Regions from separate parts of the Homo sapiens genome. Here all the other regions are reported to be linked to region 2. Evidence: microRNA targets listed by miRTarBase, many of them from high-throughput screens and not tested one by one. Region 2 holds a microRNA gene; each other region holds the end of a gene's coding sequence.
The links. Region 2 holds the annotated microRNA hsa-miR-2277-3p (UGACAGCGCCCUGCCUGGCUC, at 1,577-1,597, shown strand). A microRNA usually pairs through its seed, bases 2 to 8, with sites in the 3' UTR of a target mRNA and lowers its output. Matches are read on the target gene's strand: a 7mer-m8 pairs with bases 2 to 8, a 7mer-A1 pairs with bases 2 to 7 and ends in A, and an 8mer does both.

Region 1 (4,000 bases), not on the chromosome of region 2:
AAGCCCACTTTGGCTCCACTAGAACCTCGCAGGCAACAGCCTTGGAACGTGGCTCCCATTCACAGACCACCTGGCAAAACCTTTCTGACCAATATAGTGGCTCCATCCCATTTTTTTGTCCTTGGATGAGACAGAGGCCTGAACCATGGTCTTTGTTTCAGGTCTCCTGGGAGACACATCATAATGGTGACCCTGGAGCTCGGTGATTCATGGTGCATCCTTTACTGTCAGAAGGACCTAAGCTTGGGTCCCGCCTACCTGCGAGAACTTGAGTCTCAGTTTCCTGAAGTGAAAAATGGGGATAGTACCTGCCTTATAAGGTTGCTGTAAAGTTTACATAAGATCTGGAATTGCCTAGTGCAGCACCTGACCCACCTGCATACTTAATAAATAATAGATTCTATATGAGCTATGCACCTAGGATCATCTTTGGAAGAGCAGGGCCTGCAAAGCTCCCTGGAGCAGAATTTGCAATGTTTTCTTTTGAAAAGGAGCTTGTTTGGATGCCCTTCAGAGTCTCTGGTACCAGAGACACATCCTGTGTCCTTGCATAAGATCCTGTCCCATCCTCCTCATTTTCAACTCCAATCACAGCTAAAGTCCTTCTCGTTTCCCTTTCTCCTTTCCTCAGCCATTAGAAGAAATCTACTCTGCAGGTGATTCCCTGATGATTCGATTCCGCACAGATGACACCATCAACAAGAAAGGCTTTCATGCCCGATACACCAGCACCAAGTTCCAGGATGCCCTGCACATGAAGAAATAGTGCTGATGTTCTTGAAAGACAGAAACTGAGAATTTTTTTTGTTTTGTTTTGTTTTTAACAACAATAGCACCTTGAAAATCTGCCCTAAAACAGTGTACAGTATTTTTCTCAAACAAAAACTCAGAATCCAGCCTTAGAGGTATATATTTGAATGAAAGTCTTGTAAGTTTGGCCAACAAGGTGGAGAGAAAAATGTTCTTTTGCTTCTGTCTGCAATGTTATCATTCATGAACTGTTAAAGTGTTAAAGATTAGGATTGAAGTCACTGACCATTCCGGCTATGCTTCTTCATACCATTCTCCTTGTCCCTTGCTCCTATGTGGCAAAAGGTCAGCCTTGGGGTTGGCCGTTCCTCTAATCTGGACTTGCTTGCAAAGGTGCCAGGCTGTCTTCTGTCCATGTTGGGCATAAGGGATGAAAACTTGGCCGAGACTAATGTGTGGCCCACAGCTTTGGCTGGAATCATTTTCTTTCTCTCTGCCAGGGACATGTCAACCAAGAAACCTGAAAATATGGATGGATGTCAGGACTAAAAAAAGGCATCACAGTGAGCAGTGAGCACAGAGGGAGTTTCGAGTATAAGAATCATTGTCATGAAGTTAGGAGACCACAAAGCCATTTCTCAGAGTCATTCACTCTCCTTGTCCCTTTGGTTTCCCCCCCTCCCTAATTGCAGTGGGGGCTAAGGCATCCATTATGAATACAGCAGAACATTTGCTGGCGAGAGTCCTGTCTGCTGAGAAGACAATATTGTGGCTCGTCCTGATATTTTTTTCATTCATTGACTTTGAGAAGACTCCACCTGTGCTTGGAATTCCATGGGCTTCAAAGAACATTTCTTCTTTTAGCTTTGGAGGCACTTGCCGTGGCACACCTGGACTCCTTGACATCCAATTCAAACTGCATTTGCAAAATGTGCAAAGACCTCTTATGAGGGACCAATTCAGGTCCCTTATGGGGTGAACACTGTTGAAGACTGGTTAATTATAAGTTATGTAAGAATCATCGCCTTGTGGAACAAGTCAATCAGTGACTAGCTTCCTGTAGCCAATCAGGTTAAAGAGTGCGTTGGTAACTTTGCTCTGATTAACTAGTATTCAATCACCAACTTGCAAACAGAATTCATAACACTTGGCACTTGTTCTAGAGAAGTGTAGAGGATGATGTTTACATAATTTTAGCACCTCAAGGTATAATTTAAACAGTGAGGTAGTTTTGAATGGCATTTCATTAAGGCATCTATGGGCATTATGAGCTAAAAGCTGTGGTATGTTAGCTTTAAAAGAGTATTTATGTTGGAATAATTTTTAAATAATGTTTACATAACTGTAAGTCCTGTTTGGTTGTTGTTGGACGCAGGGCGGCACATGAGTGTTTTTGGTTAGAGCCAAGATAGCTCCCATGCACCGGAATTCCTTTGGGATGAATCAGCATCATTTTAAACAAAGTATATGTAAAAGGTGAAAGGTTATATTTTTTACAGATCAGAATGTGGCACCAGAGGACTGTGTCTCATTAAAGTGATTGCTGGGAGCAAAAACTAGAATGATACAAAGAAAGGTCAGAGAAATGCATGGGAATATTTTTTCCTTAAAACAGAAAAAAATTAAAGTATTATTAATAATATATGTCTGTATATATGTATGTATGTAAAAGATCAGCTGTCAAAGCCTTAATCAATGCAGTGTGGAAAATGCCAACCCCTGGTCCTCGCTTTACTGTGGGCCCTGCAGGACTGGCTCTCCATTTCCTGCCTCTCCTTTCACCAAGCTCTGTTTTGGCCTTTCTCGGCCCTGGACTGAGGCTCAGCCTACACGCTCATATTGTGCATATGGCAGACCCTGCCCAGCGTGCGCTTTGATACAGCAAATGGAGCAGCTGACCTCATGGCTCCAATCCCACCTGCCTGTTAGGGTAGATTCCATTTATCTGATTTTTGTATTTTCTGAGGTTTTATTTGGTCTCATCTTGTCTATGAGAGTTGAAACTGGAACTGGGAAACCTAAGATGGGTGTTATGGTTCTTTCTCCAAGGAAATAAAAATTCTGCAGTTTTAACCTTTAGAAGTCTAAGCAAGATTAACAAATTTCATAGAAAAGTGGGAGGGAGTCAGAAACAGAGTTGGTGCTGCTCAGCAGGACGGTGAAACAATGATACTTCTTTTTATCTCTTTAGTATGAACATTTTCAAAAACACACAGCTTCAACAATTGTCACCATATGGCCAATTTGCAACAATGGGACTCTTATGAAAAACCTTTATTTAGGCCTTCTGTGTGACGTATCCACAGAAAAGAGAAGCTCTGATTCAGCTGGGGCTAGCTGGGCCGCTCCTCTGGAAGCCCACACTTGTGGGGACTTAGGCATGACACAGGTTCTTGCAAAGAAACTAGAGGCTGGCTTCACTAGAGAGAGTCCATTCAGCAGAAAGTCCCAGGCCTCTGCCTTGGTGCTTCCAATTATCAGTGACCTGCCTGCAAGCATCCCCAGAAGCAAACAGCAGAGGTAGAAGATATCACTGCAGCCTGCTTTGTGCTTTAATTGGGTACCAAGCTTTGGGGATGACAGTGAGTTGCAAGAATAGTTTTAGTTCAGAGAATTGTCTTAGGACAACAGGCTAATGAAGGATTTGGGGTCTGGGTTTTTAGCCTGGCTCCGTTCTGGTGTAACCCGGTCTAGCAAAAGCTAAGCCTGGATTGCAGGGCAGGAAAAAATCTGGAATTAACTTTAGCCAGTGGAATTTCTTCAAACAGAGAAAGAGAGGCTGTTCATTGATCCACTATTCCCTCTATTTTCCTCTAAGGTAAATATTTAGAGGTATTTACCTGTAAGGTGAAGTTTCCTTTTTATTTCTACTTTACAATTTCTCTCTAAAGCAAGCTTGTCCAACCCTTGGCCCAGGACGGCTTTGAATATGGCCCGACACAAATTCGTAAACTTTTTAAAAAACATTGTAAGATTCTTTCTGTGATTTTTTTTTTTCTCGTCAGCTATCGTTAGTGTATTTTATGTGTGGCCCAAGATAATTCTTCTTCCAATGTGGCCCAGGGAAGCCAAAAGATGGGACACCCCTGCTGTAAAGTTTCATATCACTCATGAATTGCTCAGCTGATTTAAATAATTTGTAAAATCCTGCTAACTAGCAAATTCACATTGAGATTTTCTATTGATTGGGTCCCTTTGATAGCTTTCAGATTGGTATTGTTAGCGTTCCATTTGTGAACAAATGTTCCCT
Region 2 (4,134 bases):
CTGAATCCGGAGACTTCCAAGCGGTATCTCTCTGCATAATTGAGTGATCTAGGAAGAGATTTCAACTGTTTAAAAGCTATTCACTCATTATTTCTGTGGAAGTCTGTAATTATTTTAATTTTTAATTTTAAAAAGTGCTCATTTATGAAGCCACTGGTAAAATGCTACATAAGCCATCACAGGGAGTCAAAAATAGCTAAATGTATTTCCTCATCTGTTCTTATGCTTGCATCCGTGTTATCCGCTGCCTGTGTTAAACTGAAGGTCGATTTGATTTGAAAACATGCTGTACATTAGTATTACATCGAAACCACAGAGAGAAGCCGTAGTAAAATAAAGTAACCCCATAAATTGACAACTAACCTGCATTTTCTAAGTTGAATTCCTCCTGATAAAATGGGAGGCCTAGATGCTCTTTTAGTAGTCACGGCTTTGAAACCTTTTTTTTAGCTGTTCTAAATTTGCCCCTTAAAATCTGTAAAAATGTCGCCCGCCAGGACACTTCAAGGCGTAATCCCTTTTGAATGCGGTCCTTCATTAAGCGTCCCGTATGATTTGGTCTCAGTGACCTAGCTGAGGTAATTGTGTCTAACAGCACAGCTTCCGGGAGACGCAAGAAAAATCATTCCCCCTTCCCCTCCACACCACCCCCTTGGGAAGCAAGGAAACAGGCGCTGTGCGATCCCGCACGCAGGGGAAACCAATCCCCGCGCGCGCCGAGTCTCGGGAGTGGGTGGTTTCCCGGAGGGAGAGGGAGTGGCCCTTCCCGCCCAGCGCTTCCATTGGCCCGGAGAGGCGGAGGCCTCGGGCGGCCAGCCGCGCCTCGGACGACCCCGGGACAGATCCGGGCCGCGTCCCCGCGTTGGGAGAGGGATGGGGACTGAGGCCGGAGACGCCTAGACGCCGCGGATAGCGAAGTCTGAGTTCCTCTGAGCCAGGGGGCAAGTGACCCCGCAGCCCTAGTTGTGCCCTGGGAGTCGGCTGGCCCGCGCCCGCGAGGGGGCGGGGGTCCTGGCTGAGGGGCGGGGCGCGGGCGGCTGAGGCGGGGCGCAGGCGGGAGGGGCGGGGAGGGGCGGGACCGGGTGGTCGGGAGCCGGGGCTCGGCCTGGCCCTCGCCGCCCTCACCGCGCCTGGCCCCGCGTGGCCACCTGGTAACCGAATGTGTTGTTCTTTGCAGGCACCGACCGTCACGAGCTAACTTCCTGGAAGAGCTTTCCGTCTATTTTCAAATTCTTTACCGAAGCCTCAGAGGCCAAGACCAGCTCCCTGAAGCCGGCTGTGACGCGCCGCTCCCACCGCATCAAGCACGAAGAGCTGTAAGAGGAGCGAGCGCGACGGGGGAGGCCGCCCTGGCGCACCCACCCGCACGCCTCCTCACTGCTTGTGTCGAGCGGACTCCCAGCCCCTCATTAGATTGTTTTCTTCCCAGAGCCCAGGGTCGTGATATATACATCTAAATAGCGTTTTGCATTATTTCTAGATGAGTGCAACTGTCAAAGCAATATGGGTTCACTGGTCGTGCTTCCTGCGGGCTGAGCGCGGGCTGAGCGCTGCCAGTCAGCGCTCACATTAAGGCTGACAGCGCCCTGCCTGGCTCGGCCGGCGAAGCTCTAATTGCCCTGAAGGAGACCGCGCGGGCGCTGCGGGTCCGGCGGCGTCGGCGCGGTCCTAGCGCCCGCCGTAGCGGAGCCGCTGCTGCTTCCCCCTCCTTAATCATGTCCATCTTTCCCCGCTCTCAACTGGAGCAAACTTCTATTCCAGACTTCAGATTTCCATTTTCACTAGGTTTTTCCCTGAGGGCATCTTATTACCCACCTCTTTTTTTTTTTTTTTAAGGAAGTTCCACACACACTCCAAAGCCGATTTCAAATTCAGAACCTGAATGCCATGATGTACCATGTAGTTTGGGGAATGCAAATTGTTCTCTCCCTGTTTTCATTTCGGGACCAGAAAAAAAAACAACTCTGCATAAAAATCTATAAAGTACTGAATCCGCATTACTGCTGAAAATCCTTTTGCCAGCTAATTGTGAGAGTTTACACAAGTCTCTGATTTCAGAAGAGACTGTTAAAACCAAAACAATGATGGGCAGCTCTTTTAAGTGTAGGTGTGAAGGTCCCATTTTCAATGGAATTTCCAACTGTTATCACTGGGATTGACTTTACTTTTTAAACACATAATGTGTACTGTGTGGCATTGTAATTTAGATATAACACACTTAAGTTTTGCTTTTTAAATCTCTCTGTGGAGAAAGGTTGTTGTTAATCCTTTCCAGAATGATCTATTCTGAGCTTTCCTGGAGTTAGGCCCTTCTAGGGAGAGAATTTTTTTATTGTCATCAGGAAACGAAACCTTTGTGCTCTGCAGCCTTTTTCTTCTGAAAGGCTAAGTGGGGCTAAAATTATCCTTTTAGTTTTCTGCTTTAACAAGAAGAGAAGGACTTGGTGTGAAAGAATTTCTTCTCTCAGTCCAATGGTATAATTTTTAGCACTCCGCTTCCTCTGTAGGGTTTAGCCCTACAGTTTGAACAATTATTTTAATCCAGCTAAGATGTGGCCAACACTGTGAAATACAGGAGATGTTAAGGTTTTGCTGACTTTTAGATTAAAATCTTAAAATTTCACATTATATTTTAATTACTTGAAAAGTTTAATTACCTAGTAAAGATTGTTTCTAATAGATGAGAACATAAATTTAATAGTTTTCATCCTTTTTTAAAGTGTGTGCAACAATTAATATGCCTGCCTTATTTGAGGACATGATAAAATGTACCCAAAATGACTTCGAACTGTCTAATGCCTCAGAAAAGTAACTTAAAATCAACCACTTCGTGCTTAAATGTTTTTATATTATGAACCGATTTCAACAAGTTTTAAAGCTGTTAATATCTCATTGCTGTGTTTGACATACAAGTACATTCATTGGTTCTATAGTCTTAATGATGACAAATTAAAGATGTTTTTTCAGTGCTCAGGTATGCATATATTTTCGTGTTACTTAAGCAAAATCAACTATATAGGAGGAAAAATCAAAATGGCATTTTATTCAGCTACCAGATGGCTTAAAATGAGTAAACCCCAACAACATCAAGCACATTTGTCTGTGATATTGACCCTTTTTATCCAATCATTACTATTTTAGAAGTAGTGGTGAACTGTGTAAAATAATGGTATCTTCAGCAGTGTTCCGGAATCTTAGTTGAGGGACAAACATTCCTTCCAGTGAGAGATTCAAGAATTGATGTGAATTGAATATATTTTTCAAGGTATTATAAATTGTGTTGTGTTTTCAGTATAAGAAAATGTTGACAGGAAACAATTTTATAGCATTTATAAAAAACCAACACTTGTGCAATGCTAAATTGGCGAAGCTTCTGCACCTGAATTAGAGCACAATAAATATGCTGTTTATAAACCAAATCACTGCTATTCCTTCTCTGAAATCATCTCTCCTCTTTTTAAACCTTTACTTATAGCTAGAATAAATCACTATTTAATTGCCTCTAATACTTTAAAACTACTGGATGGTTAGGCCTGGTTTAACTATTTATGGAGAGCTATTTGCAAACTTAAGTTGTGTAAATGTAATTTCTACTTGTGAATCTGAGCTGTAGCAGCCCAGAGGGAGCTAGGCAAACTATTCCAGACCACCAACTGATAAGTGATCAGATTCTTTGTAATGTAGGATTTTTTAACCTGTTGATTATGGGTTTGTTGATATAAATGTAATAATGTTCACCTCGATTTTCCTGGAGTAACAACCAGCGTTGGTAGTAGCCCACCTGCATGAGGACGGCCAGTGTTAACAATATTTTTGTTCTGATCTTCTTCCCCATTTTTGTTTCCTCAAACAGGTTTTTAGGAGAGTGGAGATTTAAAGTCAGGATGTGGCCTTTTTATTTTAATTATATACTTAATTCTTAGAACAAGTAGAATGGGAAAGGAGTGACTGATAAATCTAAGATTCAAAATAGTCCCGTCGAAACTTAAAGGCCAGATTATTGCTTTGGAGCTTTCTATAGGTACTAGCCATCCCGTCGTTAAATGTTTTCATGGATATTTGAAAAGAAGACCATGTACCTTTAATAACTGTTCTTTTCTCGAGTTTCTGCCTCGTGCTTTGACCTGGATTGCA
Region 3 (4,000 bases), not on the chromosome of region 2:
TTTCCTCTGTTCTTTTATTTCTTTTTCTCTTTGATTGAAAGGGGACTACGTCTTAGCAGGAAAAAAAACTTCGCATTTCTGTGCCCGAGCAGGCTCCTTGCAAAGACAGCAGCGTGCGGGGCAGAGCCCCGGGAGGGCGCGTCTGTCCACGCCTACCGGACGCGCCGAGGTCGCGCTGCCTGTGTTCTCCGAGGGCCTTCATTTAAAGAAAATAAGGGTGTTTTGGGTTTTTCTCTTTGTTTTTTTCAAGATTCTTTTAAAGGAGTACTGAAGAATACTTTCCTAAGTTTGTCTGTAAAATCTTAGCGGTGGACCTGGGAGATTTGAGAAGCTTCCAGAAACAGTTTAAACAAGCCAGCGCTACTGGAGAAGAGGAGCAACACCTGTGCCGCGGCCGGAGGAGTTTTGTTGTTGGTTTTAGCTTCCAGTGGCTTCTTTCTGCGGGGCATCAGGCTGCTGGGGTAGCCGCCCGCCGAGCCTGGAAGCTGCTCGTTCTCCGCTGGACTCAGAAGCCAAGCTGCTTCCCGCCTAGACTCGGCGCAGGGCCCCGCACCGGTGAGGAAGGTGCTTTTGGCCCCATTGCGAGGGGCCTTGGCCAGGACTGGCCCTGTGGCCAGGAGGCGAGAAGGTGGCTGTTCCCGGATTGACGGCTTTTTCCCGGGGGCCTTTGGAAGATTTGGTGGAAGGACAAGAGGGCCTGTCCCTGTCCCCGTCCCCAGGAGGTACCGACAGTCCCTGTGCTGGTTAGACACGGAGCGCTGCACACCGAAAGCCCAAATTGGGAGCTCTGCCTGCCGGCAACTTTGCTGATGGGGTGATTGCTGCTTCTGGGGGGTAAGGAAACAAGTTACAGAAATTACCGCGTTCTGTGTGAAGGGACTGAGGGTGTGGTGTCATTGGCAGAGGGTCATTTTAGGAGAGCTGCCCCAGCCCCTCGAACGCCTGGCTTGGGGTGTCATTCTGCCTGGCGGCCAGGCCTCCAGCTTCCCCTGCCCCGGGCCTGGGGCTGTCACTGGCCCTGATCCGAACACCTCCAGATTCCGGCTTCTACATGGGACAGACGGGGACGCACAGGCCACCTTCCTTCTGGCAGGGACTCTTATTTATTCCCATTGCTCTAGGGCTTTCGGTTTCCCCTTCTTCCGGTAGGCCGCGTAGAGGCATGCACCGGGTAGGTTTCCGCGGTGACCCCGCGGCGGCCTGAGGGACGCTCCCTGCCCCATCCCGGCTGTTGGGCTGGGCCGCTTTGCCTCTGCTTCGCCCTGTGCTGTGTTCTCCAGCTTTGTAGCAGCAGCCTTGACAAACCCAGGCGCACTGTACCAAGGCAATGTAACTTTTGATTTTCGGTCAATTTAAGTTCTTTTGTCACCAAATATTAATAAACAGTTTTGACTTCACACCAAGGTTGGATAAACTGCAGGGGGTGGAGGGTGCTGGGGTTTTGCCTTGGCTGAGTGACGGGTTGGGGTGTGAAGGAGGCCAGAGGGAGACAGGCAAAGCCCAGAAGGGACAGGTCTGCCTTGCAGGACTGAAGGGCGACCCCTGCCCCTGGGCCCTTCCCGTAGGCAGCACCTGGGCCTGTCCGGGCGGCTCCCCGGAGTGGCGCGTTAGGCCTCTGGCAGGTGGCCTGGAGGTGGAAAGGCCTATCCGATCACCAAGACTGAGGGGCGCCCTCCCCACCACCCAGGCAAGGAGTCCAAGGAGACCAGCGGAGCAGACCACGCGGCATTTATTGTTGGGCCCGCGTCCCTGCCCGCCCCGGGTTAGCGGCAGCCGCACTCGTCCACCACCATGTCCTCATACTGCCGCAGCACCACGTTGTCGCTGTTGTCAAAGAAGAGCACGGAGATGGGCGACAGGCGCGCGGGCACGCAGCAGGGCAGGTCGGCGGCTCCCGGGGCGGCCGCGTGCATGAGCGCGCGCAGCACAGCGTGGTTGAGCGCCGGCGGCCCCCCGGACCCCGACAGCGCGACGGGCAGCGCGCACTGACCCTGGCAGTAGTTGGCCAGGAAGCCGCGCGGCGCGATGACCCAGCGGTGCCAGCCCACCTCGCGGAAGCTCACGTACAGCCGCCGCGCGCGACAAGCGCCCCCGGGGCCGCCGCCCAACACGGGTTCGGCGTCGCGCCGCGGCCGGGCCAGGGGGTGGCACAGGCGCGGGTCGAGGGTCACCAGCAGCAGCGAGGCCTCGGCCAGGCGCGCGCAGGCGGCAGGGGCCCGGGGGCGTAGCGCCAGCGCCAGGCGGAGGCTGCGCGGCCATGAGGCGTTGCGAGCCCAAGCGGCGCCCAGCAGCTCCGCGCGCACTGGCGGCCCCAGGGCGGGCACCAACTGGCGGAGCAGCACCGGCCCGGGGTCCGCGCCCGCGCCCTGGCCCGCTTGCGCCACGCTCAGCTCCCAGCCGCCCTCCGGGGCTGCCGCCGCCGCCGCCGCGAAACGCAGCTCCAGGCGGGCCCGGCTCGGGCGCTCAGCGGGTTCCACAGCCGACAGGTCGAAGACGACTGTCCACTCAGGGCAATGCCCCGCGGCCGAGGCAGGCTCCGAGGCCCGGGTGGGCGCACCTGGGGAGGTAGGAACAGGAACTCGGCTCGCGCTGCGTCCCCGGCCTGCCCATGGGGTCTCGGTTAGGGACAGGGAGGAAGGTGAACGCTGGGGCTCGGGGCGCACCGTCTGTGGGAAGGGTGTGAAGCGGCGGGGTGGGCTGATGGAGTGGGGGCAGGGCATGAGTTCCAAGGAAGGCGCCCTGCGGGGTGCGGCGGGGGGGGTGGGCTGCCCTCGGCGGGGGGCATAGGAGGAGGGGTGGCCGAAGTGGGAGACATGAGCCAGAACCTGGGCCCCTGGGGAAGCCATGCTAGGGTGTGGGGATGGCATCTGCAGGAAGGCATTAGTGTCAAGAGGTGGGGGTGGGCATGGGGTGGGGACAGGGCTTCAGCATCAAGCAGAAGGACTGGTCTTGGGAACCCCCTGACATGTGTCCCCGGCGTGCAGCAGATGACGAGGAAAGGGTGAGGTGCGGTGGCCGAAGTTGCTAGTAGCCTGGACAGGGCGGGTGGGGACCCTCGGAGCTGCTCGGGCATCCCCGGGCCACTCTCGAGGCTCGCCCTGCGAGGTCTGGCCTCCAGGACCAGTGTCCCCAGCGAAAGCCCCACTCACCGCGGTCCGGGATGTGGCGCACGATGTTTCCGGCGACCCCCAGCTCCTCCACGTGGCACGGTTGCAGGGTGACCCCTGGGGACGTCCGCCGCGAGCCAGACCTGGTCTCCTGGGGGTCCCGGCGTCGAAACAGGCGCCACATGACCGGGGGAACCGGCCGGAGCCTGGGGGCACCCTGGGGCTCATCGCGCAGTCCTAGAGCCTGGAGCAGGGCGGCGGCTGGGCCTGGGGGCACGGGGGCGCGGGTCAGGGGCAGCGAGGGCAGCAGCAGGGCCAGGAGGAGGAGGAGGTGGTGGCCGCAGGGACCTTGCTGCGGCGGTGGCATCTTCCTCCCAGGCGATGACCAGAGAGTGCGCAGGGTCCGCGGCGGCCCGGGACCAGTGGGCTGAGGGCGGGGCCGGTGTCCCCGGAGGGGCAGGGGTCCTGGGGGGCGTGGCCGGGAACTGGAGGCAGGATGAGGGGGCGGGGTCCCAGGGGAGGTGGCGGCGGCCCTAGAGGAGCAGAGTTGGAGGGGGTGGAGGGGCGGCCAAGGACGGGGAGCGTGGCCGGGGTATTCGGGGTGGGGCCGGGTCCACGGGGGCGGGGCCGAGGGGTTCAGAAGCGCTTGTCCTTCACCAGGCCGTTCCTCAGTGGCTTCCTGGGGGTCAGAACCGGCGCAGGTTAGCCTGGGAGCCCCACGCGGCCGCCTGGCCCTCTTTCCCGCTTCTTCTCTGGCCGTTTCACACCCCCTGGCTCCTTTTACCCGGCCAGGCCCGGGCCTCGCCTTGTGGCTTCCTCCTCGCCTTCACCCTGCCCCTCCTTGCCTTCACCCTGCCCCTCCTTCAACCTGCCCCGTAGGCACGTATGTCCCC

Region 1: the mRNA of TLL2 is a reported target of hsa-miR-2277-3p. Seed matches in the 3' UTR shown: 7mer-A1 at 2,427-2,433.
Region 3: miRTarBase lists CERS1 as a target of hsa-miR-2277-3p. Seed matches in the 3' UTR shown: 7mer-m8 at 1,963-1,969.

Annotation. Positions count from the first base shown.
Region 1 is chr10:96,364,854-96,368,853 of GRCh38, reverse strand. TLL2 (tolloid like 2) reads left to right here. Exons shown (of 21, transcript NM_012465.4): 21 at 632-4,000. The coding sequence ends at 766. Among named protein-coding and RNA genes, the nearest start is that of OPALIN, 7.9 kb to the right of the region's middle.
Region 2 is chr5:93,618,173-93,622,306 of GRCh38, reverse strand. It overlaps MIR2277 (microRNA 2277), which reads left to right and starts at 1,519; the gene lies at 1,519-1,611. ARB2A (ARB2 cotranscriptional regulator A) reads left to right here. Exons shown (of 11, transcript NM_032042.6): 11 at 1,178-4,134. The coding sequence ends at 1,320. It overlaps LOC124901028 (a long non-coding RNA gene), which reads right to left and starts at 625. Exons shown (of 3, transcript XR_007058874.1): 1 at 364-625. RefSeq lists a silencer at 961-1,010 and an enhancer at 3,365-4,134.
Region 3 is chr19:18,866,834-18,870,833 of GRCh38, forward strand. It overlaps CERS1 (ceramide synthase 1), which reads right to left. Exons shown (of 8, transcript NM_021267.5): 7 at 3,150-3,786; 8 at 1,712-2,557. The coding sequence ends at 3,744. It overlaps UPF1 (UPF1 RNA helicase and ATPase), which reads left to right. Exons shown (of 24, transcript NM_002911.4): 24 at 1-1,397. It overlaps GDF1 (growth differentiation factor 1), which reads right to left. Exons shown (of 8, transcript NM_001492.6): 7 at 3,150-3,786; 8 at 1,712-2,557. The coding sequence starts at 3,474. The coding sequence ends at 1,764. Among named protein-coding and RNA genes, the nearest start is that of CERS1, 27 kb to the right of the region's middle.